4 linked regions of the Homo sapiens genome follow. The protein of the gene in region 3 interacts with the protein of the main gene of each other region in a pairwise test. Each region holds a gene or a part of one and is shown on either strand. Other genes may lie near its edges. The genes, in order: KIRREL2, PATL1, PSMA3 and STX6.

Evidence for each region.
Region 1: the proteins of PSMA3 (region 3) and KIRREL2 interact in binary tests that used the Homo sapiens proteins (3 or more experiments, as listed by UniProt).
Region 2: the proteins of PSMA3 (region 3) and PATL1 interact in binary tests that used the Homo sapiens proteins (3 or more experiments, as listed by UniProt).
Region 4: the proteins of PSMA3 (region 3) and STX6 interact in binary tests that used the Homo sapiens proteins (3 or more experiments, as listed by UniProt).

What each region holds. Positions count from the first base shown.
Region 1 is NC_000019.10:35,852,947-35,859,937, reverse strand, and holds the start of KIRREL2 (kin of IRRE-like protein 2 isoform c precursor), read right to left. Parts: upstream 3,028-6,991; 5' UTR 2,819-3,027; coding exon 2,758-2,818; intron 2,594-2,757; coding exon 2,444-2,593; intron 1,531-2,443; coding exon 1,381-1,530; intron 1,235-1,380; coding exon 1,074-1,234; intron 458-1,073; coding exon 307-457; intron 1-306. UniProt on the Homo sapiens protein: May regulate basal insulin secretion.
Region 2 is NC_000011.10:59,645,023-59,652,049, reverse strand, and holds part of PATL1 (protein PAT1 homolog 1), read left to right. Parts: intron 1-408; coding exon 409-506; intron 507-1,236; coding exon 1,237-1,296; intron 1,297-2,439; coding exon 2,440-2,588; intron 2,589-4,136; coding exon 4,137-4,296; intron 4,297-7,027. UniProt on the Homo sapiens protein: RNA-binding protein involved in deadenylation-dependent decapping of mRNAs, leading to the degradation of mRNAs. Acts as a scaffold protein that connects deadenylation and decapping machinery.
Region 3 is NC_000014.9:58,240,695-58,247,842, reverse strand, and holds the start of PSMA3 (proteasome subunit alpha type-3), read right to left. Parts: upstream 3,001-7,148; 5' UTR 2,923-3,000; coding exon 2,902-2,922; intron 94-2,901; coding exon 11-93; intron 1-10. UniProt on the Homo sapiens protein: Component of the 20S core proteasome complex involved in the proteolytic degradation of most intracellular proteins. This complex plays numerous essential roles within the cell by associating with different regulatory particles.
Region 4 is NC_000001.11:180,998,854-181,005,880, forward strand, and holds part of STX6 (syntaxin-6), read right to left. Parts: intron 6,611-7,027; coding exon 6,441-6,610; intron 3,848-6,440; coding exon 3,753-3,847; intron 1-3,752. UniProt on the Homo sapiens protein: SNARE promoting movement of transport vesicles to target membranes. Targets endosomes to the trans-Golgi network, and may therefore function in retrograde trafficking.

The sequences.
Region 1 (6,991 bases), on a different chromosome or scaffold from region 3:
AGGTAGCTGGAATTACAAGTGTGTGCTACCACGCCCGGCAAATTTTTGTATTTTTAGTAGAGACGGGGTTTCGACATGTTAGCCAGACTGGTCTCGAACTCCTGATCTTAGATGATCCGCCTGCCTCGACCTCCCAAAGTTCTGTGAGTACAGGCGTGAGCTACCATACCCAGCCCTCTCCTGCTATCTTAGATCCAGGAGTCCAGGCTCCAGTTTCCTCATTCCCCAAGGGCCACAGTCCCCTCCTTCCTCATACCCAGGAGTCAGGGCCCCACACCCCTCTTTCCCAGGGCCAGCTGCACTCACACTGCAGGCTCAGTGTGATAGCTGTGTCTCTTCCTGTGGGCAGGGCCTGGCTCCGGGCCCGGCAGACAAAGGTGGCTCCATCATCATGGCTGAAAGGGGTCAGGGTTAAGGTGCTCTCCACTGACCCAGGGGTCCCTTCCTTCAGCAGGGTCTGGAGGGAAGGATAAGAATAATAATGCCATCTACCCATCAGGGGTGTCCAATCTTTTGGCTTTCCTGGGCCACATTGGAAGAAGAATTGTCTTAGGCCACACATACTAACACTAATGATAGCTGATGAGCTAAAAAATTACAAAAAAGTCTCATAATGTTTTAAGAAAGTTTATGAATTTGTGGTGGGCCACATTCAAAGCCATCCTGGGCTGCATGCAGCCCATGGGCCGCAGGTTGGACAAGCTTGCCTTACTTATATAGTGCTCACTATGTATTGGTCACTCTTCTGGGCATTTATAGGTATTTATTTATTTAATTCTCACAATACCCTATGACATGCATGCTACTATTATCCTGATTGTATAGATAAGGCAACTGAGGCACAGAGAGGTTAACTAACTTACTCAAGATCAATCAACTAGCAAGTGGCTGAGACATAATTTGAACCCAGGTAGTCTGGCCCTAGAATCTTTACCCTGCATCATATTTCAAGAGTCCAAACCCATGAACCTCTGCCCTCCCATGTCTTCTTCTCTTCTGGATGAGCCTGTGGTCAGAGTGTAACCCAAGTTTCCCTCAATGGGCAAAGGCTAGCACAGGAATTTGGACCTGACCTGATGGAAGGTGGCTCCATCCAACAGGACCCCATCTCGGAACCACAGCAATTCAGGGGTAGGGCGGGCATCCCCACGGCTCCGACATGTCAGGTTCGCAGGAACTCCAGCAACCAGAGACACAGAGGGGCCGCCCAGCACCTGGGGGGCTTCTGGGGGGACTGCAAGGTGGATTTGGGGTCAGAGATGGATCCTGATCTTCTCAGCTCCAATTGACCATGCCCCTGGGCTCCCTGGGCTCTGCTACTCACAGCTAGTACGGGCTGCCCTCTTGGGCTCCCAGGGGACAAGTGGGCGAGGTCCTTACCCAGCACGTGCAGTTGGGCTGGTCTGGAGCGGAGGCCTGCTTGTGTAGCCTGACATTCATATGATGCTTCATCCTCTAGCTCCACGGGCCTAATGTGGAGGTCATGCTGGCCATTGGCTGCATTCCCTGATATCCAGTACCGGGACCACCCTGGAGTCAGGGAGAAGGCAGTCAGCACACCATGGTTCTGAAATCCTGGCCTCAGGCCTCCATCCCCAGACATCCTCCACCAGAAAACTGGCCCACACATTTGGTGGTAAGACACTATTAAAAAGTGTGTACTGGGCCCAGAGAGACTCTAACTCCCTCCCAACCCAGAGTCACTGCAAACTTAGGGGTAATAAAGTCAGGAAGGAAAGCAAGAAAATGATTGCCATAAAAATTAGGTTAGATACTACTTCTGGAGTGAGGGGGAGGGGGCTATGATAGGGGAAAGGAACACGGGGTCTTCTGGGGAGCTAGCAATGGACTTGGGTATTGGCTGTGTGTGTCTATTTTATTTGGTAAATCTTCCATTTATATTTACTGTACTTTTTTGCATTTATGTTCTCTTTTTTTTTTTTTTTTGAGACAGGGTCTCACCATTGCCTGAAGTGCAGTGGCTTGATCATGGCTCACTGCAGCCTTGAACTCCTAGGCTCAAGCAATCCTACCACCTAAGCCTCCTGAGTAACTGGGACTATAGATGCACACCACCATACCCGGCTAATTTGTTTAAAATATATATATACATTTGTGTAGAGATAAGGTCTTGTTATGTTGCCCAGGCTGGTCTCAAACTCCTGGTTTCAAGCGATCCTCTGGCCTCAACCTCCCAAAGCGTTGGGATTACAGGCGTGAGCCACTGCACCTGGCCTATGTACTATTTTGCAATAACATAATAATTCCCAAACTCCGTGGGTCACCCCCAAAGAAGCAGCTCAAAAATCAGGACTCCTAAATGTTTACCCGAGCCCATCAATTTCCCAAACTTGAAAATGTCAAAATAGAAACTGCAGGTACAGCCGAGCCCAGCAACTCTCCCCCTAGCCAGCCCGTCCCAGCGTGGAGAGAACACTCTTACCTGGTAGGTCCCTTTGGCCCCCTAGGGCCAGCCCACTCTTAGTCCACTGAACTAGCCCCCAGTAGGCGCCCAGAGCACACGGCAGCCGGGCTTCCTCCCCCAGCAGCACCACCAGGTCCTCTGGCTGTTGCAGGAAATGGGGCGACGGGCCTAGGAGAGTTCGGGGCAGCAGGGCTGAGCTTAGCACCTTCAGGGGCCTCCTCATTCAGGACCCAGGAGTCCCAGCCCCCAGCTCCCTTCTCGCTAGTGAAGAGGCAGCCCGCAAGCAACTCCCCACCCCCACCCCATATTCCTCCGCTCCCCTCGTGCGGTACCTGCTCTCCCTCTGAAGCAGAAGAGGAGGACGAGGAGGGCGGGGACCCGCATCCTGAGCATTCGTCCCCCAAGGTTCACGAGATTTGCCGTCGCACTGGCCTTCCCGTCAACTTCTTCCTCTCAAGCACGCCTCCTGTCACCCTGGCCCGGAGCCCCCTTCACGCTCGACTCTTCGCCCAGCCTAGTCTCTGGCCTGGAGTCCTCCAAGTCTGCTCATCCGCAGCCTCTGACGCTCTGAAACGCCTGCCAGTTCCGCGGCCTGGGTCTCTGGGAGACCCCAAGAGGGCCCGATCCCGCTCGCCCCGCCCGGGTCCGCCCCCCGGGAGCTCCGCCCTCTTCCCGTTGAGAAACTCCCGCGGCTGAGACGCGGATGAATGGGGGACGCAGGGCGGGATCCCCCGGCGGGTGGGCGCCCCCAGCTCAATTGGGGTCTGGGAGCCGGAACACCTGGGTTCGAGGAGGGAGGGGGTCCCGGCTGGGTTGGACACCTGCGCCCTGCCGGGGTTGAGGGGCAGGCAAGGGGTGAGGAGGAGGGAAGGGAGAGAGTGGAAGAAACTTGCTCAGCCCAGGTCCTAGAGGGACTGCGCTCAGTGGAAACTGAGCTATAAATGGGAGCTCCTGGGGCCTCGCCAGTTTCCGCGCCCTGGGGGATGCGGGGTCCGGGGCTCCCCCGGGCCTGCGTGTCGGGAAGAGGGCACACCGATACCTGGGGGACAGTTGGGACCCCTACCTCGACTCCCCCAGCCTCAAAACCCCTCCTCAAAATATCCCTCTGTTCCCTTGTTATTGCTGCAAACTACAGCACGTCCTAAGACCCAGGAATCCAGGCCCTCGGCCCCTCCTTTCCCAGGACCCCGCAGTCCCAGCCCAACCCCTCTCCCCACTCGGCCGGCCGGGCCCCTCGGCCTGGTTGCCCGGCGACGGCTGGGAGGCGGCGGTGCCGGGCCGGGGCAGGCAGGGAGGCTGGGAACCGCGCAGCTTGTCCTGACGGCTCCATGCAGCCCAGCTGGGGCGTTCCCACGCTGCGCAGCTGGCCGAGCAGGTGGGAGGGACCCCGAGCAGCCTGAAGGAGGGCTGGGGGGCTGGGACCCTGATCTGACATTCCTGGACCTGTAAGAACTGGAGGGTCCACATTCAGATTCTCCACTGTTCTTAGGCTCAGACTCCGTGTCCCTAAATGGGGGAGTGGGGTTGGGAGTGGGGGTTGGACTTACAGGGTTATAAGGGACTGGTGGTTCAGGCCTTTGCTGGCTGAGACGCTGATGGCCTGATCTCCCGGTTCCTTGAGAGGCTGGAGACTCAAGGTGCACTCAAGTGCATGGTGCACTTGGAAGAGGGTGACAGGGGTCAGAATATCTGGTCTTAAGTCTTAAGAGTCGGTGGATCTATCTGCCAATCTCTCCCCACCCCCACACAGGCCCAGGAGGATTTGGAAATCAGACCGTGAACATCTGTCCTAAGTCCTGTGTGTATGTGTGTGTGTGTGTGTGTGTGTGTGTGTGTGTGTGTGTGTGTGTGTGTGTATGGGGAGGTGCGGGGGTGGGTAGTGTGGCCAGGAGGATCAGAGGCCCAAATTCCCGAGTCCTTGGAGAGAAGGGACTGAGACCCCAGGGTCTGAGAGGGGAGGGATCTGGGGGCCTACACTCCCGGCTTCTGTGTGGCTTATCTAGTGCCTGGATTTTGAAATAGGATGGACATGGGGCTGGAACTCCTGAGTCTTAGGGAGGAACTCAAGTCATGGGGCTGTTTTTCCAGGCACTTGACGCCGCTTCCCCTTCCTGGCTCTCTGGGGCTACGGACATGGAAAGATGGAGAGCCCAAGGTCCCAGGAGCATGCAGAGAAGGAAAACAGCCAAGGTGGAGGGTGGAAGGTTTGTGCTTATTAAAGGCCCCAGCAAGGGACAGCTCCACGCTCTGGCACCTAGGGACACCATCTGGCGAGGGCCCCCAGGACAGAGCCACTCCCCCAGCTCGGCATCCAGCCCATTTCCCAGGGGGTGTAGAGAGCAGTTGGGAGAGGGGAGGTGGGAGGAGGGCAAGGAGTCAAGCATGTGAGGGAAGATGGAAGTCCAGCATCGAGGATGAAGCTGGGGGCTGAGGCCAGATGCCTCATCTTGTTCCTGGGAACGATATTGGCGGGGGTCTTGGGGAGGTAGGGAGAAAACTAGCATTTCCAATTCCCGCAGGAGATAAGCAGGCAGAAGAAGCTTATCCCAGGCAAGTGTATGTGCACGCGGGGAGGGCAGGCCCACCAGCATATGGTTATAAAATCCAGGGATGTGATGAGCAGAGCCACTCGGAGATGGAGAGACACATAAGAGAAAGAGGCGTGGTCAGAGTGTGGCTGAGAACAAATATTTATGGAGCTCCTGGTGTGTGTGAGACAGACTGTGGGGTGAGGGGAGCGACAGAGGTGAGAACAGAGACAGAGAAACAGAATAACAGAGACATATAGAGATGGAGAGACACAGTGAAATAAAGATTGACTGAGATTTAACAACTTAATATAGAGAGCGAGAGAGTCTCAAACAGATGGAGAAAGATAGAAAGATAAATCAGCTGGGCACAATGACTCACGCCTGCAATCCCAGCACTTTGGGAGGCCGAGTCAGGCTGATCACCTGAGGTCAGGAGTTCGAGACCAGCCTGATCAACATGGAGAAACCCCGTCTTTACTAAAAATACAAAAAATTAGCCAGGCGTGGTGGCGCATGCCTGTAATCCCAGCTACTAGGGAGGCTGAGGCAGGAGAATCGCCTGAACCCGGGAGGCAGAGGTTGCAGTGAGCCGAGATCACACTATTACACTCCAGTCTGGGCAACAAGAGTGAAACTCCATCTCAAAAAAAGAAAAAAGAGAAAAAAGAAAAAAAAGAAAGATAAATCAAGGGCCAGGTGCGGTGGCTCATGCCTGTAATCCTAGTACTTTGGGAGGCCGAGATGGGAGGATTGCTTGAGCCCAGGAGTTCCAGACAAGCCTGGGCAATATAGCAAGACTCTGTCTCTGCAAAAACATTTAAAAAAAATTAGCCAAGTGGCGGGGTGCAGCGGCTCCCACCTGTAATCCCAGCACTTTGGGGGGCCAAGGCAGGTGGGTTACCTGAGGTCAGGAGTTCGAGACCTGCCTGGCCAACATGGCGAAACCCCGTCTCTACTAAAAATACAAAAATTAGCTGGGTGTGGTGGTCAATGCCTGTATTCCCAGCTACTCAGGAGGCTGAGGCAGGAGAATCGCTTGGACCTGGGAGGCGGAGGTTACAGTGAGCCAACATCGCACCATTGCACTCCAGCCTGGGTGACAGAGCAAGACTCCCTCTCAAAAAAAAAAAAAAAAAAAAAAAAATAGCCAGAGTGGTGATGCGGGCCTGTAGTCCCAGCTACTCAGGAGGCTGAGGCAGAAAGAACACTTGAGCCTAGGAGGTTTGAGGCTTCAATGAGCCATGATCACACCACTGCACTCCAGCCTGGGCAATAGAGAAAGACCCTGTCTCTACAAACAAATTTTAAAAAATTAGCTGGAGTGGTGGTGTGCACCTGTAGTCCCAGCTATTCAGGAGGCTGAGGCAGGAGGATCACCTGAGCCCAGGAAGTTGAGGCTGCAATGAACCAAGATCATGCCACTGCCCTCCAGCCTGGGCAACAGAGCAAGATTCCATCTCAAAAGAAAGAAAGATAAATCAAGATAGATAGAGGGAGGGAGAGAGAGAGACATGGAGAAGGAAAGAAGAGATGGGAGAGAGGGCAAGAAAAAGAGGGAGAAGAAAGCTCATGCAGTCCTTGCCAAAGGGCGCCCACTTTGGGCTCACACTGCACCCACACTGGGGGCCGGTGGAATTGGACTCTGCCTTTTACTCCCGCCCACACCCTGTGCACTCCCACGTAAGACACTGTCACACACACGCTCTCCACATGCTTATTACAGATCGCAGTTCACTCTAACCTTCCCCACTCTCACACCCACGTACACACATGCATATCTTCCCTCTCTCCCACACTCTCCCAGCCTGTCACACTCACTCTTGCATCCTCCCCAGCAGAGATCCCTGACATCATTTAGGCACTGATGTCTACTAAAAAAGGAAGGGAGGCCAGGTGCGGTGGCTCATGTCTGTAATCCCAGCATTTTGGGAGGCTGAGGCAGATGGATCACCTGAGGTCAGGAGTTCGAGACCAGCGTGGCCAACATGATGAAACCCCGTCTCTAGTAAAAATACAAAAATTAGCCAGGCATGGT
Region 2 (7,027 bases), on a different chromosome or scaffold from region 3:
TCTGTTGTCCAGGCTGGAGTGCATTGGTGCCATCTCAGCTCGCTGCAACCTCCACCTCCTGGGCTCAAGCGATTCTCATGTCTCACCCTCCTGAGTAGCTGGGATTACAGGCGTGTGCCACCACATCCAGCTAATTTTTGTATTTTTAGTAGAGACGGGGTTTCGCTATGTTGGCCAGGCTGGTCTCGGACTCCTGGCCTCAAGTGATCTACCCCCCTCGGCCTCCCAAAGTGCTGAGATAACAGGTGTGAGTTACCACACCCGGCCTAAATGATACATTGAGTTTTGCAGTAAGTTATTAGACTATGAGTAAGGGACAGAGGAAAGTAAAAATCTTCTTTGAACACTGCCTGCCTGCATTGCTGACTTTTTATTTTGTTGGAATTTTTTTTTTTTTTGTCTTTGCAGTGCAATTTGAGGGCTCTTTGGGAAAGCTTACCGTTTCTAGTGTGAATAATCCCCGAAAAATGATTGATGCTGTTGTGACATCTCGGAGTGAGGATGATGTAAGTGTCAACACAATTGTCTGTTTAAGAACGTCTGATTTGTGACCACTTCTTTTGGGGTCACCATGGAATGAGATCAGGCATGGTAGAGTTGTTTGTAGTCTAACCCGGGGCCTCCCACCTCGTCATGCATTCTAGTTTTCCACAGATGTGCTGCAGTATTAACACCTTCATTTCTAAGGCAGCCAGGCAGGGACTAGGGTGGCAGGAGTCTTTGGATTGGGTAGCTCTGGCTGCAAACAGCATGTATTTACTCCAGTTTGATGTTAAAAAAATTATCATTTTCTATGTGTTTTAAGATTTTCAGGAAGAGGATCAGAAAGAATAATTATGGGGCACTAGGCTTAGTACCTGGGTGATGAAAGAATTTGTACAACCCCCATGACATAAGTTTACCTATGTAACAAACACATGTACCCTATAACCTGCACGTGTACCATTGAACCTAAAATTAACGTTTAAGAAAAAAAAAAGATTTTCATATTTCATATGATTTCCTTATCCTCTACTAAGGTTGCCCTTTGCCTATCTGTGAATGGAATTTAATAGTTTGTGGATTGATTCAGTCAACTTTGACCTTTGTTCATACTAGGGTTGTTTTAGATTATTAACTTTCAGAGAATCAATTATCTTCTCAAAGTATTGTCACAAATGAACCTACAAATGCGCACTTGGTAAATTATTTTAACAGAGATAAAGAATTTGCATTGAATAGTCTTCTCTTTTTTAGGAGACAAAAGAAAAACAAGTTCGAGACAAGAGGAGAAAAACCCTTGTTATAATTGAGAAAGTAAGTTTAGAATTTGTTGCTGTAGTTAGTTTCAAATACGGAACTGTCAAATGTATGTATATACTAGAACTGAAACAGTGAGCAATCAGTCAATGTTCTTTGGTTTTAATTCATGAATATATTGCTGGTAAGTGACTATTGTGTACCACATAACTTTGGAAAGGATTATGGTATGTTTCACCTATTGGCATCATGGAAAGAACACTGCAGTTAAAGTTGGAAGTGTATTGGGTTTTTGTCCAAGCTTATTCAGTTAACAGCTGAGTGTCTGGGCAAGTCACCTTTCTAAGCCTGATAAAATGGGAATGAAAATTACATTGTCCTACCTGTGGATTAATTTAGTTCACAGATATTTACTGGGCACTATTCTGGGTGCTGAGGAAAATAATGGATATTAATAGTTGATTTGTAAAATGTAAATACCACATTGTAAGGCCATACACCATAGTGGTTGAAAGTATGGACTCTAGAACCAAGCTGCAAATCATGTCTTTTTCCATTTCTGAGTCTGTAACTTAAGGCAAGTTATTTAACCTTTCTATGCTGTCCTCAGTTTCTTTATCTGTAAAAATGGAGATGATAGTAGTAGTTTTCTCTTTGGATTGCTTTTTTTTTTTTTTTTTTTTCCTTTTGAGATGGAGTTTCACTCTTGTTCCCCAGGCTGGAGTGCAATGGCGAGATCTTGGCTCACTGCAACCTCCGCCTACCGGGTTCAAGTAATTCTCCTGCCTCAGCCACCTGCGTAGCTGGGATTATAGGCATGTGCCACTATGCCTGGCTAATTTTGTATTTTTAGTAGAGATGGGATTTCTCCATGTTGTTCAGGCTGGTCTTGGACTCCCAACCTCACGTGATCCGCCCATCTCAGCCTCCCAAAGTGCTGGGATTACAGGCGTGAGCCACCGCGTCTAGACTATTTTACTGTCTTTGCCTGCTAGAATAGAAGTCAGAGAGAGACAAAGAATGGTGGTTTGAGGAATTTTTTAAGTTATTTCATATGGTTTTCTACATTAAAAAAAAAAAAATCTCAGTCTTTCTATAATGAGTTTGTCTTTAGCTAGTAGTCCTAAACTGTGAAATTGTTTAACTAATACTGTGGTTCTGACCTAGCATGCTGTGGCCTGCTTTTGTCTCCCTTCTTAGACCTACAGCTTACTCCTTGATGTGGAGGACTATGAAAGACGTTATCTCCTAAGTCTGGAAGAAGAGCGACCTGCCCTAATGGATGACAGAAAGCACAAAATTTGTAGCATGTATGACAACTTAAGGGGGAAATTGCCTGGACAAGAGAGGTAAGCATCGTGCAGTTTGAGGAAAACATTAACTGGACTCCTTCCTCTGTCATAACTGGATTTCATACATTTTTGCCTTTTAGGTACACTTCCCTACCATCTCTGTAAGCTCAGAATCTATCCTTTTAGCCTAACTCAAATGCCACTTCATTTAAAATACGAATTATCTTTTCCAGTGAGGAAAGAAAAAAAAAGTCTTTATCCTGAATTTATTCATTCAACAAATACATAGTATCTGCTGGGGACAGTGCTAGGCACTAGAGATATAGTGGGTAACGTTATTGGGTTTTTGTGCTTACAGATTGCACCTGATTTATGATTACTAGCATGTTTAACCTTGTAATCTTTATATATTTCCTTTATTACTAAGATCAGATGTACAAACATTTATACTTCCTGGGATTTCCACAAAATATTTATATCCTATCGAAACCCTTCAGTCTTCCAATGGGGAATCCCTCACCTACCCCATTATCTGCAAAAGAATCTTGCTGATGTTAAATGTTCTGTAAATCCTGAATACTTATTCGATGTATTCAAGAGAACTACAACTTCTAACAACTCCCTTTCTTTTTACCCGTTCAAGAGAATTACTTATCCTTCTAAGCCAGGACATACACAAAACCAAACATAAGAATAAGCACTTTGTTTTCAACACACCGTGTCTGGAGTTAGGCTGACAGGGAACTGGTTAAATAAATGGTTTATCCATAGATTGGATGTTATGCAGCCATTAAAATGTATGTAGTTGAAATATATTTATTGACATGGAAATAAGTTGTTGAGTGAAAAAAGTCAAGGTACAAAACCATATGAATTATATGGGCCCATTTTTTTATGAAAGAAAAAATATATAATACAAAGCAAAATGTTGTTTAAAATGGTAACACTAATTAACTCTGAGTTGACGAATGTTTTTATTTTCTTTTTTCTTTTTTTTTTTTTTAAGCTGTTGCTGTTAACCATATGGTATTTGTGTGGTTACTTAAAAGTTAAGAGAGGAGGCCAAGCACTTTGGGAGGCTGAGGTGGGCAGATCACTTGAGGTCAAGAGTTCAGAGACCAACCTGGCCAACATGGTGAAACCCTGTCTCTAGAAAAATATAAAAATCAGCTGGTCATGGTGGCGGGCATCTATAATCCCGGCTGCTCAGGAGACTGAGGCAGGAGAATCACTTGAACCCAGGAGGTGGAGGCTGCAATGAACCAAGATAGCGCCACTGCACTCCAGCCTGGGTAACAAAGCGGGACTTCGTCTCAAAAAAAAAAAAAAAAAAGAAAAAAAGTTAAGGAAATTAGTGCATACAGTTGGCCAAGTTTTTTTTAACCATATAATTTGTGAAATGATTATTTTCTACATTTGTAAGACCTGAAAATTTACTTTTTATTTGGTTGAGATTTGGAGAAGTGATTCCTACTGTTTTATAGTACAGGTTATTAGAGAATGAAAATGAATGCAGTATATTCATTCAGTAACATCTAAGAGGAAAAAAATGAGGGTTTCTTAATTGTTCTTGCTGACCTAAGCTGGCATTTTTCTTCCTTGCAGGCCTAGTGATGACCACTTTGTACAGATCATGTGTATCCGAAAAGGGAAGAGAATGGTTGCCCGTATTCTTCCTTTCCTCTCCACAGAGCAAGCAGCTGACATTCTCATGACAACAGCCAGGAACCTCCCTTTCCTTATCAAGAAGGATGCACAAGATGAGGTGACTATGCAAGATGGGACATCTTTCTTTTGAGTCTTTATAAGTGATAAGATTTCTAGAATGCAAACTTATTTTCCTCTCCTCTTCCCTTTTGTATTTTTGTCTAATCTTTGGCTGTGTGATTTGATTATTTAAAACAAAACCTTTAGTATTTCAGGCCTATATTTTTAATCCCATATTTGATGGAACAGACTATGTTTCTAAACATGAGAAAAACAACAATTCCCTCTTACTTGACATAGTTGTAAAGATGTGGTCTGTATCAGAATTACTTGCGTAGATAATTCAACTCCACCCCAAACTGCTGAATCAGAATTTACAGAAGGATTAGGGTTTTTGTATCTTAGTCTCCAGCTGAATCTGATGTTCACTGAAGTTTGAAAACTTATAGTCTTGGTTATTTTGCTAGATATGAAGTATCATTCATTGTTCTGTTATCAGTAGCTTAACATTAGCCTGTAGACTTAGTTAAATGGTATCCCACAGCAACTGAGCTAGTCCCCTTTTGGTTTTTTTTTTTTTTTTTTTTTTGAGACAGAGTTTTGCTCTGTCACACAGGCAGTAGGGCAATGGTGTGATCTCGGCTCACTGCAGCCTCCACATCCCAGGCTCAGGTGATTCTGCCACCTCAGCCTCCTGAGTAGCTGGGACTACAGGCATGCGACACCATGCTCGGCTAATTTTTTTTTTACCTTTTGTAGAGACAGGGTTTTGCCACATTGCCCAGGCTGGTCTCAAACTCCTAGACTCGTGCAGTCCTCTTGCCTTGGCCTCCCAAAGTGCTGGGATTACAGGCTTGAGCTACTGTGTCCAGCCCGAGCCAGCCCTTTAAATAATTTTTATCATGATCTAGACTAGGCTGGAATTTTAACATGGTTATCACATGTACAAGTTAATTCTTGGTTAGAGTTTTTCTCTCCTTATCCTTGTCATAGCACACCTGAAAGATGAGCAAAATTTAGAATAGTCTTAAGAAGTTCAAAATAAGAAACTGATAAAAGTGGGACAAAGGATGAATATTAGTACAAGATTCAGAATAGTAGAATATATGGGAGTGAACCTGTTATAGACTACAAGTTGAGTAATAACGATCTAAGTAATGAGTCCCCAGAAAACACAGAATACCTTATAAATGGTATGCTATGAAAGGGAAATTATTCTTTCATAGATCCTTGAAATGTTAGCATCTGCAGAAGAAATGAATGAGAAGTTTAGGTCTCATTGAAAAAAGTGAAGTGGGTTGGGACAAGTATATATTTAAAAGATTTGGCTGGGCACAGTGGCTTACGCCTATAATCCCAACACTTTGGGAGGCTGAGGCAAGTGGATCGCTTGAGGCCAAGAGTTCAAGACCATCCTGGGCAACATGGTGAAAAACTGTCCCTACTAAAAATAGAGAAAAAAAAGAAAAAAATGAGCTGGACACAGTAGTATATGCCTGTGGTCCCAGCTACTCAAAAAAAAAAAAAAAAAAATTCCACAAATGAAAAATGAGTTAGGGAAAAGTTCCAGTATTTGAGGTTTATCCTAGAAAATAGAAGACCAGACTAAAAAAGTAACAGCTACCTTAGAGCATATAATTTGTAAGCAGTGTAATGGGCACTCATAATCCCACCAGAGCTCTTGTGTGGAAACAAGTTTGGGAGATAATTTGCTGAATACTTCTATGTGCCAGGCATTATTTTACCTCCTAGAAATACAACACCTAGTTCTAGGTGCTAAAAGATAAGAATGCAAAAATGCCTGCTTTCATGGAGCTTACCTGCTAGGAGGAAAGCTTGGCTAAATACCTAGGCTGATTTTTACCTGTATGTTTTAAGGAGTAATAAACCACATCTCTAAATACCATTTTCTTGAAGTAATAGCTGGTTCTAGGTCTGAATCATGAAATGTACAAGATATCCTGGAATATCTAGTGCCAGAAAGCAAGGAAGTTAATAGATTACTAGAGTCCTGTCTAAAGGATACACAAACCAACTTCAAGAGACTCATACTGGCCAAAAGTGGAATAATTTTCATCAGAAAGAACAGTTACAGCAGTAGATTGAAATATATCAAATATATTTAATGAGGTAATAGTGTTAAACATATATTGATCACCTTTGGAGACTACTAGGCCATCAACCCACTATTCAGAAAATTGGTAAATAAAGGAAAAGCATTTATCCTACCTTTCCATTACAACCAAATGTCATGGTAATCAGAGAGTTGATAATACAAAGTTCTTTGTAGAAGAATTTTAGCTAATAAATACAAAAGAAATGATAAAATTAGAAAATAACTGTTTTTGCAAGCCTCAACAGAGAAGCAGTCAATCTAGACAGCACTCATTACTGGCTGCTAAAAGCAGTAGGTAAAAAGTGGATGGGGGGGGAAGTGAGGGGCACCTCTGCCTGGCCGCCCCTACTGGGAAGTGAGGAGCCCCTCTGCCCTGCCACCACCCCGTCTGGGAGGTGTACCCAACAGCTCATTGAGAACGGGCCATGATGACAATGGCGGTTTTGTGGAATAGAAAGGGGGGAAAGGTGGGGAAAAGATTGAGAAATCGGATGGTTGCCGTGTCTGTGTAGAAAGAGGTAGACATGGGAGACTTTTCATTTTGTTCTGTACTAAGAAAAATTCTTCTGCCTTGGGATCCTGTTGATCTGTGACCTTACCCCCAACCCTGTGCTCTCTGAAACATGTGCTGTATCCACTCAGGGTTGAATGGATTAAAAAAAAAAAAAAAAGT
Region 3 (7,148 bases):
TGTTTCTTACCTACTATTTTCCACAGCCTTCATAGCATATTCAACTTGAAAAACTCTTCCGTCAGGAGAGAATGTAGAGGCTGACAGGTCATACTTAAGGAGAAAAGGGCAACAGTAAGCTTGTATCTTTGGCAGTAATGACCATACAGTTTCTTCCCCTCTAAATGGCTGAAACATCAGGAACCTGTTATATCCCAACAAAGACCTTGCTTTCAAGAGAGGAAAGGGAAACTTGTCAGAGCAGCAACAGTAGCTAAGATAAAGCTATATACCTTCGATTTCAGCTATTGAAGAGTAATGGATACAGGTCCCAGGTGAAGTCAGAACACTTTTCACCCAGACTACAAAACTCATTTTTGAAAAAGATTAATATGGGGCAGTAGAACCAGCACTGGAGTTCGAACATTTAAATTTGTAACGATAACTCTGCCATTAACAAACTAAAAGACTTCAAACAAATCATTCGGCATTCACCAAGCAGTTAATGAGTATCTATTATGTTACTATACGGAATACAAAGGTATACTCATTCATTAAGTCCTTCAGTTTCACATCAGACATGAATCTAGGTGCTAGAGGTACAGCAGTAAATCAGAAAAGGCACTAAGATGAAAATAAAAGAGTAAAGCAATGAACTACTACAGACTACATCATCAGGGAAGGCCTTCTGGGCAGTTATATTTAGGCTGAGTCAAACCTAAATGACAAGGAGCTAGCCATTTAAGATATGAAGGAAAAGTCTTCTTGACATTTGGCACAAAGATCTTAGGGTAGAAATAAGGCTAGCACAGTCAAGAAACAGAAATAAGGTCACTGTGTCCCAAGCACTGTAAGCAGCAGAAAGAAGAGTAAACTGTGTTAGTGAGGTAGCTGAGGGCCAGATTATGTTGTGTCTTCCAGGATGGAAAAAGGACTCTGTATTTTATTCTAAATGCAATGAGAAATTTAAGCAGGGGGAGTGGTATCATCTATATTTTTAAAAACATCATTCTGGCTTTATGCGGAAAATAAGCTGTAGAGAGAACAACAGAAGCAAAGATAAGGTGTTCCAAAGATAGCGGTAGTAGCTTAGACGAGAGAAGAGGTAGAAGGGAATATTTTTTGAGAGTAGAGTAAAATATAAAAATAATAAAAATAAACTTGCTAGGCCAGGCGTGATGGCTCATGCCTGTAATCCCAGCACTTTGGGAGGGTGAGGCGGGCTGATCACAAGGTCAAGAGATGGAGACCATCCTGGCCAACATGGTGAAACCTCATCTCTACGAAAAATACAAAAATTAGCTGGGCGTGGTGGTGCGCACCTGTAGTCCCAGCTCTTCGGGAGGCTGAGACAGGAGAATTGCTTGAACCTGGGAGGCACAGGTTGCAGTGAGCCAAGATCGTGCCACTGCACTCCAGCCTGGCAACAGAGCAAGACTCCGTCTCAAACAAAATAAAAATAAAAAAATAAACTTGCTAAAGCGTTGGTTCTGGGAGTAAAGTAAAAAAAGGAATTAAAGATGAATAACAGATTTTTTCATATGACCATTCACTGAGCTGAAGACTGTAGTAGATGCAAAATGGCAAGGTGAGGAGAAAACCCAGAGCTCTACTTTCACATGCAGTACGAAATGACTATTAAACGATCAAGTGAACAGACATGTCAAGCAGACAAACAAATATTCGTATCTGGAGTTCTTGGGAGAAATGAAGACAGAAGAAAAGCCTTCAGCAGTGGTACTTTCTGAGTCTGTTTCCTGATCTGTTAAACCCAGATCATTAACCCTACCATTGTTACTAAAATATCCCACATGGTTACATTATCAAGTATTCTTTAAAAGGTTTGTAGAATGAAATACTATTAATTCAAGGTAATATTAATATAATTGCAAAGTCAGTTTGCTACAAGATTTAATATTGAGCATTTACTTATCCAAGAAAAGTATGGCAGAACTTTAGCATTCATAACTGAATGGATTAAACCATTCCAGACATAAGTTGCCTATTATCAAATTTAGAACACCGGTACTTGAACTTAAGGCTGAGCATGAGAATCTTGTTAAGAAGTAGAAATTGAGGAACTGAGAAACTCATTATTCAATAACTCTAGTGCAAATAACCAATAAATCTTTTAGAAACTGTATTTTCTATATAGAGAAGTACATAAAAGGAGTAAACTGACTGCACATATGCAATACGTTTAACAAAGGAAAGCCAAACAAGTTAACAAGTCCCACTGCAAAATCCTCAACAGTCTATGAAAAGTCTGAAGCTGTTAAGTTCCTAAGTAACCATTTAAACGTTTACGGAATAAATGCCTACAAGCGCTGTTAGGTAATTTGTATAGGAAAAACGAGAAAGGAAAAACTGAAGGATTCATCAGATTGTTTTTCAGACCATTTTTATTAGTTCTGTTCCGACAGGATTTCCAGTGACTCTTAAACTGAGCGGTCAATGATCTGCACACTTAAAGACAGAGAAGGCCTGTGAATCAGCAGCACCCTAGGAACTGCAAACGCAGTCCACAAAAAGCACGATCTCCAGACCCCGGAATCCCAAATCTCACTGCCTCGGTGGTTCTCAAGAGAACACACTATTTCAAGCCCCACGAGTTTCCACTTTCGGTTTCCCTAAGTGGCTGAAGAAAGTGACTCAGCAATCCAAAGCGGCTCCAAACCTCACTGCGGCGACGCCAAGCCGGCTACACCTGCGCTGAAAAGCTTCAGGAGTCACGGTCACCTGAGACGCAGGCCTAGCATATAGGGGATAAAGACGACCGGTCTCCAAACAGCTGCAAATGGCCCACCCAGCCGAAGGCGGTCTCAGAGCACCCCGGGTCCGCGAACCCCATGTGGTCTGTCCGAGTTCCCTTCAACCCCAATCCTTAGGTTAAACTATTACACCGACAGACAGCGAACTCACCCCAGTGCCGATTGAGCTCATCGTGCTAAACCCAAAGGGACGCGTAGGGATTCCAGGCCCGGAGCGCTTCCCCTATACCACAGGATGCCGCAAACTAGTAACAGGCCCGCTCATTGGCTGAACTGCCAACCAATAACCTTTTTCTCTGTGGCTCGTTCCGCGGCTCCGGCCCCCAGGACGAGGAGTATTGTGGGAAAAAAGCGGGCCGCGAGAGGCTGGCGGCGCGCATGTGCAGAAGCAATGGAGGCGGGGTTGGGGAAAGCAAAGGCTCCTCCTTCGGTTCGCGTACTTTGAGCCGCTTGGCGTCGTGGTATCTGAGAAGCTGCTCTATTCCTTTCCTTGGAATTATTATTTATCTTTTATATTATTATTCTCTCCTCACTTTATTCTTTCTTTAAGCCAAAGGGAGAGATGCTGGTATACTCTCACAAAAAGTAGAAAAAGCAGTAGGCGCGAAGTAACCTGTCTTCCTCCGCGTCCCGACCCTGACCCAGAATCTTGATGGCATCCACTTCACCTCCTTGTGCTCAGGCTCTCGTGAAGTTTCACTTAAAGGGTATCGTCTTTGAATTCAGCTTAGAATTTTACGGAAGTATTAGTGCTCTTTCTATGAGTATAACGCTTTTTGGTAAGAGTTAAAGATAAGTCTGATTAAAGATATTTTTTGAGCGCTAGTATATTCCACGTGTTCAAGAAAAAGCCGTGAACAGAGCATACCCCCATTTCTAATGTAATTTCCATTCAGTGGGAATAAATAGGTAACAATAAATAAGCAAAATAGTAAGAAGAAAGAGTGCTTTAATAGACAATGGAGGTACTAACTTTAGGCAGTGTGCTCAGGGAATGACTTTCTGAGTGAGTGATATTTAAACTAAAATAGGGTAACAAAAGACAGTGGTTTAGGGAACAGTAAAAAACTTGGCTTGCGCTGGGAACTGTCACGTCAGAGTGACCTCTCATAATGATTAAGTGGGGAAGAATGACAGGAAGAGAACAAGTGCACAGGAGACCAAATCTTGAAGTGGTTTGAATTTTAATCCGATTGTAAATAGGGCATCAGCATTTTTTTTACTCCTAAATATTAATACGTCAGTGTGTATTTTCCCCCAACACAGGAACATTATTTCACAGAGACACAGTATTATTGTGAAAATCAGAAAATTACCAATACTATGATCTATCAACTTTATGCATTTTTTTTTTTTTTTTGGTAAATGGCCCAATAATGTCCTTCATAGCAAAAGAAAATCCAAGATCACACCTTGCATTCAGTTGTCATGTTTCCAATCTGCTTTAGTCTGGAAAATAGTTGCTTAGTATTTCTTCAGTTTTCATGGCATGAACACTTTTGAAGAATACAAACCATTTATTTTGTAGAATATTCCTTAATTTAGGTTTGATTTTTTTGTTATTTGATTCAAGTGATGCATTTATGGCAGGAATACTACAGAAATGACCTTGTATTCATTCATGTCAGAGCATTACATTAGAAGGGACATGATGTTAGTTGTTTTATTGCTGGTAATGTTAACTTTGATCACTTGCTGAAGATTTATCCCTGATAATGTTTCATTTTTCCCTTTGTAATTAGTATCTTGTGAGGAAATACTTTGAGAATATGTACACATCCTGTTTACGCCTCAACATTTCACTCATTAATTCTAATATCTGATGATTCTTATTTGAATTGATTATTACAATGGTTGCCAAATGGTGATTTTCTAATTCCATCATTCTTTTCACATTTATTATTGGTTTTCTACTGTGAGGTTATCAGGAGTTTTTAAAGCAAGAGAATTATATGATTTGATTTAAATCATTAAATGACCTCTTGTTTCTGTGTGAAGAATGATAGCTAAGGGAAAGAAGAGAGGCAGGGATACTAGTTGGAAAGTTATTGCACTTTTGTGAGCTAGCAGTAATGGAGAGTGATTTGGACTAAAGTGGTGGCAGTGGAGGTGGAAATATGTAGATGGATTTCAGATGTGTAGGGAGCTATGGTTTGAATGTCCCCTTCAAAACACGTGTTGAAATTTAATTGCCAATGTAATGGTATTGCGATGTGGGGCCTTTAAGAGGTGATTAGGTCATGAGGGCACTATGGATGAATGACATTTTCAGAATGGGTTAGTTATCTTGGAAGTGGGTTCCTAATAAAGGGGTGAGTTTCACTGGATTTCAGCTTTCTCTGTCTCACATATTCGCTTGCTCTTCTGATCCTCTGTCATGGGATAACACAGCACAATGCCCTTGCCAGATGTCAGTGCCATGCTCTTGGACTTCTAAAACCATGAGCCAAATAAACTTTTCTTGTTTATGAATTACCTAGTCTGTGGTATTCTGTTATAGCAGCAGAATATGGGCTAAGACATAGGGCTTGCAGAATTGGGTATAGAAAGTAAGGGGGAAAAAGGAATTTCAGTTACTTTTGCTTTTTCCTGCTAATGAAGCATTACAATTGATGTTTTTATTCTTGAACAAACCGATAGATAAAAGGACTTGAATGACTTGGAAGACTAGCCACTTAATTTACCTAACCCTCGTTAAAACATTCTAGTTGTAAGTGGTTTTTTTTTTTTTTTTTTGAGACTGAATCTTGCTCTGTCACCCAGGCTGGAGTGCAGTGGCATGATCTCTGCTCACTGCAACCTCTGACCCCCGGGGTTCAAGCGATTCTTCTGCCTCAACTGCCCGCGTAGCTGGGATTACAGGTGTGCACCACCATGCCAGGCTAGTTTTTGTATTTTTAGTAGAGACCGAGTTTCACCATGTTGGCCAGGCTGATCTCACACTCCTGACCTCAGGTGATTCACCCTCCTTGGCCTTCCAAAGTGCTGGGATTACAGGCGTGAGCCACTGCACCTGGCCTCTAGTTGCAGTTCTTTCCTGGGGAGTTCGGATTTAGACCAAGATAGTCCAAGAAAGTGTTGAAGAAAGCTAAAGGTTAATAGTTGCAGAAGGTTTGGCCTTGGAGGTAAACCGTAAGTACTCAAAACTTGTTTAGGTATCAGTTAATCTTTTAATTAACATCATTACTTGTGTGTGATAAACACTATTTGAGTGCCTAGTGCACTCAATATTTATTAATAATTAAGAATTTGGGGGTTCTTTCGGCCGGGCGCGGTGGCTCACGCCTATAATCCCAGCACTTTGGGAGGCCAAGGCAGGCGGATCACCTGATGTCAGGAGTTTGAGACCAGCCTGACCAACATGGTGAAACCCTGTCTCTACTAAAAATACAAAAATTAGCTGGGCGTGGTGTTGCATGCCTGTAGTCCCAGCTACTCCGGAGGCTGAGGCTGAGGCTGAGGCAGGAGAATTGCTTGAACCCGGGAGGCAGAGGTTGCCGTGAGCTGAGATCACGCCACTGCACTCCAGCCCAGCGAGACTCCCTCTCAAAAGAAAAAAGAAAAAAAGGCCAGGCGTGGTGGCCCATGTCTGTAATCCCAGTCCTTTGGGAGTCCTAGGCGGGTGGATCATCTGAGGTCAGGAGTTCAAGACCAGCCTGGCCAACATGGTGAATCCCGTCTCTACAAAAATTAGCCAGACATGATGGCGGGTGCCTGTAGTCCCAGCTACTTGGGAGGCTGAGGCAGGAGAATTGCTTGAACCCGGGAGGCGGAGGTTGTAGTGAGCCTCATGCCACTGCACTCCAGCCTGGGCGACAGAGCAAGACAACTCTAAATGTATACTATTTTATGACATATGTTATTTTTAAATTGAATACCTCAGGAAATGTGATGCCCAATGTTTCTAGCTTCCAAATACTGTGCTTTGGGGATACTATCCTAAGAATTCTTTGTTATTTTCAGGTTTACAAATTGGTCTTTAACTTGCACTGCTAAGTAGTAGTATAAACACCACACCCCTCTCCATTATCACAGAAATTAGAAGAATTTCTTTTTCTTTTTTTTTTTTTTTTTTTGATATGGAGTCTCGCACTGTCGCCCAGGCTGTAGTACAATGGCGTGATATTGGCTCACTGCAACCTCCGCCTCCCGGGTTCAAGCGACTCTTCTGCCTCAGCCTCCCGAGTAGCTGGGATTACAGGTGCCGGCCACCATGATCGGCTAAGTTTTTGTATTTTTAGTAGAGACGGTAGTTGGGGACGGGGGGGTGGGGGTGGGGGGGGGTCACTATTTTGGCCAGGCTGGTCTCGAACTCCTGACCTCGTGATCCACCTGCCTTGGCCTCCCAAAGTGTTGGGATTACAGGCATCCCGCGCCCGGACAGAATTTCTTATCTAG
Region 4 (7,027 bases), on a different chromosome or scaffold from region 3:
GACGTTTAGAACCAGCAGTCAAGCAACAAGTCCCAATAAAATATGGTTCATCTGCCAAAGGAACAACAAATGTCCTGGTTATTTATGCTTCTGTTCCCATTTCACACTGTCTTCCAAGCTGAATGAATGAGACATCATAAACCCCAGTGCTTCCCACTCATAATTCTTACATTTCAAGGTCATCTGTGCTCACACTGGATACTTCACCCTTTTTGATTAACCAAAGCCATTTCCATCTTGACTTACAATTGACTGTAAACAATTCTTACATTGGAGCAGGTTCGGTTTTTTCATGGAGAGGGTAATAGTTCTAACTTTTAAAGTCAGAGAATGTTAGTGAGGATTATTTCATAGATAAAACTGAGATCCAGGGAGGTTGAATGACTTACCATGGTTAAGATTTATTAAGGTCACAGCTTAGCCTAGAACTCAGGTTCCCTTACCCCTTATATTCACCATTATTCTGCCATATACTGCAAAACCTCTTGATCCTAAAGTAAAACCAAAGTCACTTCTAGGATATATTTCTAAAACACAAAAATTTCACATGTGGAATCTTTGATGTATAGGTGACTCCACAAGAGTAAAAATGATTACCTCAAAAATATGAAAGCTATTTACACAAAAATGTGAGTATTTTGGTTCTTCACTAAAAACTGCCAGCAAAACTGGATTTGTACAGACTTAAAAGATGCTTGGAAAAACATACACAAAACTCTAAACAAGGAAAGCTTACTAAAGGCATAACCAATGGACATTAATCAAGAAGAAACAGGCGATTTACTTCTTCAGGTTGAAGCAAATAAAGAAAAAAAAAACCACAAAATGCATAGAGTATCACTGACTCCCCTGCCTACAAAAGAGAAAGCATAAGTAGAATACACTGTTTGAAAGATAAAGTCAATCAAAATTTTGGAGCAATATTAAATGAAAGCCCACTAGTAATAGTAACAGAAGAACTAACATAAATTTGTACAAATTCCTAATTTGAACTTCATTTCATCTCATTTTCCAAATCTGCTAACCCTCTGCTCCCTCTCTATCGAGCTCTTCCACCCAGAACCCAGAAATCTCTACATACAAACACTGTTTAGCTAAATGTGGTAATGTGGAATTATACAAGGTATATTTTATTTTTAATCGAGTTAGCACCATTGCTATTTCCTCCTCTTCTATAGGACTTTCAACTAGAATTTATTACAATCAGATCAGCAAAAGCTCAGTTAGGTACTGTTAGCCTACCACTGGTAAATACTAACAGCTTCCCCCAAAGGGGTCATAAATTTAAACAAGAATGATTTAAAACCCTAAAATATTCAGGTGGATCACATAGTTGAGTATGGTTTAGATCTCAACTCTAAAAGGACAGTAAGATTTTGAAGTACTGACTTGATTTGGAATACCTCTCATTACTCTGTTCTCACATTGCTATAAAGAACTGCCCGAGACTGGGTAATTTATAAGAGAAAGAGGTTTAATTGACTCACAGTTCAGCATGGCTGGGGAAGCCTCAGGAAACTTACAATCATGGCAGAAGGAGAAGCAAGGCAACTTCTTCACAAGGCAGCAGGGAAGAGTGACAGAGCAAAGTGGGAAGAGCCCCTTATAAAACCATCAGCTATCATGAGACTCACTCACTATCATGAGAACAGCATGTGGGAAACTGCCCCCATGATTCAATTACCTCCACCTGGTCTCTCCTTTGACACATGGGGATTATGGGGATTACAATTCAAGATGAGATTTTGGGTGGGGAAACAGCTAAATCATATCAACCTCTTTCTAAGAATGTACTTTAAAAAGCTTTTCAGATATTAGAAAATGAACTTTGGATTCTTCTTTCCATTATACCAATGAACTTAATTTTTAATATACGAACCTCTAAATTTCAATTTGCAAACTTCCTAAGTCTACCTTGCAGAAATAAATATAATGATTAAGGTTAAGGACATATGCTTCACTGCAAGGCCCCACTTAAATATTAACGTCTATAGGAGTATCCTTCAAAAAACCTACTACTACAAAAAAAAAAAAAAAAAAGCTTATACAAAATAATTGGGGATTTACTTATCTTACAAAAAATATGTCACCTAACAACAAGGCTTCCTCATCAGAACAGTATTTTGAACTGGCTAGAAATTAAGAATGTCCAATCCAAACACTCACTGTGGATGGGGCATCTGAGGTCCAGAAAGGTTTCTCCCTCATTAAAATGTGGGTTTATCTATAAACAATTTACGTATATGTATATAGAAAGGCAACTAATGAATAAAACAAGTAACAAGAATATATAAAGTTCAGTGATAATCTACCATTTGAAATAATTTCAAAAGGAAATCACATGATATAAAGACTTTGGCAAACACAAACTAAGGTTCCTGCCTAAGATGACTCTTAAAAAGCCGTATGTTAGCACTGGTATGATCCCAAGTCTTTTTATTCAAGGAAGCTGCTTTCTAGTACATATGTTAAAGACAGCTGGTTCTCTTACATCTAGTTATGCTAATCAAATGGCTTAGCCATATAGTTTCAAAATATGAAACATTTTAATGACACAAGATTGTACTTAATATTTTTTCTCAGATTCTTTAATAATGGGTATTATTCTAAATAACTTAGAACTAAAGATTTGTTCACTTGGATCAATTTTTTACACTCTGATAGATGCTTGTTTGCTCTGGATAACTCTGGAACGGCTGTCAAGTAGTTACATATGGAAATGTCAGTATCTTGGGTTGCAAGAGTTCCAGAAGCAATTCAGATGGCGGAAGAGGCCGCTATCCAAACCCACTAAGAGTCACTCTTCAACAATGCGAAGTGATTACCAATCAATCAAAAAACCAAATGGTTTCTACAATAGCAATTGTTTTGTTCGTCAAGAAATAGAGTACACTAAGAAATAAAAAGTGAGAAAGATAACTAGCTTGAAGAAACTAGAGGTATGGACAAGGGTCTAATCATTCAGGATGACACCATTTGAATGTACCCTGCCCAAAGCCAGCAGATTACTGTCTCATTTTTGCTCTCGGAAATAAGCCTGACAGGCTGGGCATGGTGGCTCACGCCAGTAATCCCAGTACTTTGAGAGGCTGAGGCAGGCAAACTACTTGAGTTCAGGAGTTCAAGACCAGCCTGAGCAACATGGTGAACCCTGTCTCTACAAAAAATTAGCCTGGTGTGGTGGTGCACGCCTGTAGTCCCAGCTATTTGGGAGGCAGAGGTTGTAGTCAGCCAAGATCATGCCACTACATTTCAGCCTGGTCAACACAGTGAGACCTTGTGTCAAAAAAAGAAAGATTAAAAACAGATTTCTTTTTCTTCAATCACGGAAATTTTTTTTTTTTTTTAAGGTACAGTGACGTGATCATAGCTCTCAGCCTCAACCTGATCCTCCCACCTCAGCCTCCCATCTTGGTCTTCCATGTAGTTGAGACAACAGGTGTGCACCACCATGCCCAGCTAATTTTTATATTTTTTTTTTGTAGAGACAGGGTTTCATCATGTTGCCCGGACTGGTTTCAAACCCCTGGGCTCAAGTGATCCACCCACCTCCACCTCCCAAAGTGCTGAGATTACAGGCATGAGCCACCATGCGCAGCCAATCAGAGAAATTATATATGGGGAAGCTCACATTTAATTCATATTTAAAAAGTGGTTTCAGAGGTGACCTATTAGTTTACAATTAAGGGAAAGAGCTCTAAGAAGTCTGGCTATTTCTTATACAGATAACACAATAAGATCATATTCCTTACCCTGACAACTTGCCGAGTACTTGTAATGAAGGCTTTTCTTATACTCAATTCAGTTGCATCAAGGTTAAATTTTCTAGGATTTGCTTCAACTATGCGTAGGTCAAAAAGTCAAGGTAAAACAATTTCATCATCAAAGCCTGACAACATCCTGTTAACTCACTGAATCTCTCACATGCAAACAAATAAAATCTGGCTCAAACTTTCTGAAAACACAGTCAGCTGGACACCAATCATTCTCAGACTTCCTCTGCCCACAGCCACAGGAGGGAGGATCCCTTTGCTCCAAGACAGAGATGATCTGTCTGGTTAGGAAGCATAGCCCCTGCTGATGAGCTTCACTGCAAACACTTAGGGCTATCTGACCACAGGTGAGCTGGGCTCTTCCTGTTTGCCAACACTTGTGTCTATCCTTTTTTGACTCCTGATCACCTTTACTAAGACAGCTTTTGCAAGCCTTTTTCTCCTGCCATTCCAAACCACTTCCCATTATGCCAAGATGCTAACCCTACTTCTTAATCTAGAGAGATCGGGCCTTCTTCAGAGAAGCTGCCCTCATTCCCTTACCCTCTAGCCTGGTCCGACGCACCATGTCAGACACTTGCATAGCTCTCTATACTTCTCGTTCATAGTCTGCAGGTATCTATTTGTGTTATTACTTGATTACCATCTGTCCCCCATCCCTATCCACTCAAAGTTCTGTGAGGGCTGGTATAGTGTTTATTAATCTAATCTCTGTAACCAACAAAATGCCTGGCACATAGTATACTCAATAAACACTTGCTGGTTGAATGATGAGTATCTATTAAAACTTTTGTTTTTTTAATCTCACATTTTCTCTATCTCCCCTAACTTTTTTTCCTTCCCTCCTTTCTCAAGGGAAGAATTATCTCCCTGTAACTGTGCTTTTGATCCTGCCCCCTCACATATTTGCCACTAATTTTAGAGAACATACTTGCCTTTTAATAATGTAAAAGGTACCAGGGTCATCATGAATAACAAAAATTATTTACTCCATGTATCAACTGCATACGAACCTGTGCTAACTATAAGGTGATCCTGACAGAAGCTGGTTTCCTTATGTTTTATCTCACTTAGGGAAAAAACAAAACAGAACTCAGAACATGCAAGTGGCATATCTTCCATCTAAAGTTTTGGTTAAGTGGGATTTCCAGTTGGAAAAAAAGGCTATATAATGAAGTTTTTACAGTTCTCCAGTGCATGAGTCAGATCAGTGGACTTACTTCACATCAATACCATGAATTAGCAGAGCAGATCTGCTTTTACTAAATGCAGTTTCATGGAACAAGACATCTCTTCAATGGACGGTAGCACTGTAACATCACTTCTTAAACATGAAGACAGTCTACAAAAAGATTTTTTGATCTCTAATTACCGAAGTGTAACACTGGCCTGTATGGACCTCTATATGATAATGACTGCTAACACTATTACATAAGCTGTGTGCCAGGTGCCATTCTAAACTCTTTACCTGTATAATCCCAATAATCCTATGAGCTAGGTACTCTTGTTATCCTAACTTTCCACTAAAGAGGAAACGGAAGCACAGGAGGTTAAGTGATGAGCCCAAGTCACATGGTAACTGGTTGTGATACTGTAATAAATGCAAATTCGGTCTCTGCCCCCTCATTTCTGGCACACAGCTCCTTGATCCCTTGGAATCTCCAGATGAGTATCTTTTGTATGTTAATGGGATAATTGATGGCTGGGGGTTTCTAGATAGCCTCAGGACGAGGGGCTGGTCCCCAGAGAAACCAACCATGTGATTAGACAGTTGAAGCTTTCAGCCCCCTGCTTAACCCCACCCCAGGGGAAAGGGGCTGAAGGCTGAGCTGATCACCAATGGCCAACTGATGTGATCAATCATGCCTGCGAAATGAATCCTCCACAAACACCAAAAGGACAGAGTTCAGGAAGCTTCCAGATAGGTGAACATGTGGAGGTTCCTGGAGGCACCTGAAGAGGGCCTGGAAGTGCTGCACCTTTTCTCCCATACCTTGCATGCATCTCTTCCATCTGGTCATTCATCTGTATCCTTTGTAATATCCTTTACAACAAATGGATAAACCTAAGGAAACTGTTTCCCGGAGTTCTGTGAGCTGCTCTTGCAAATTAAATTAATTCGATCTATGGAGGGGGTCGTGGGAACTCCAATTTATACGTGGTCAGTTGGAAGCGCTGGTCACAACCTAGGGCTTGCAACTGGCATCTGAAGTGGGGGCAGTCTTGTGGGACTGAGCTCTTAACCTGTGGACCTGATGCTATCTCCAAGTAGACAGTGTCAGAAATATCATACTGACTTGAGTGTGAGGGTAGAGACTTAAAAAAAAAAGAAAAAAAGGGTTTTTTTTTTTTCCCTTTACATTGGTGGAGGCAGGACTTGAACACCAGAAATCTGACTCCAGGGTCCACAGTCATAATCATTACACTATGCTGCCTTTATATATATATATACATTTATAGTACAGGATTTGTCACACACTGTATAAGAATTTGGCTACTGTACCTTAAGTTACTGGGCAAATACTTTAAACATGTCATGGTACAAGTAAGAGCAACAAACATTAATCGATTATAAAATGTTTCATCTACATACTGGAAACAACTGGAGAAAAACTTGTCCATTTGTCTATTTATCCCGAATGGCACAGACACCACAGAAAAGGATATTGATGGTTTCATCAAGGTCCTCTAGATCCCACTCTATGCTCCGGAGGTTATTTCTCAGCTCGTTGGTGGTCCAGTCGATTTCTTCCCTTGTTGCTGTGGAGGGGTCCTGGAGGAGCTCTGTCCATCTCTGAAACAATCCCTGGGCAGTGTTGACTGCTTTCTGTACCTCTCTGTAATCAAGATGAGGCAAAGGAGAGAAATCACAGACAACATTCCATGGTCAAGTTACTGCATGATTTAGGTTAACATTTATGATCATACACCATCCTCAGCAACCACCATTCCCACAGAAGGCTCTTCACAGACAAATATCAAAGTTCAAAACTTTGATACACAGTCTGAGTATTATGTTCTCAGCTGATGCTTGGAATACAATAGCCATTATTTAAGCAGCTACAATATCAAGTTTGTTGGGGAAGGACAAATTTAATATTTTTCTCTGAACAGACTATACGTAAAAGTATAATGAAGCAATCCTACAAATTAACTAAAGGGCAATGAGCATTCCCACATGCTTCCACTTGGTGTGACAGTATTAATAATTTATACTCAGATGATAAGTCCTAATATGGCCTTTCTTTTCTTGG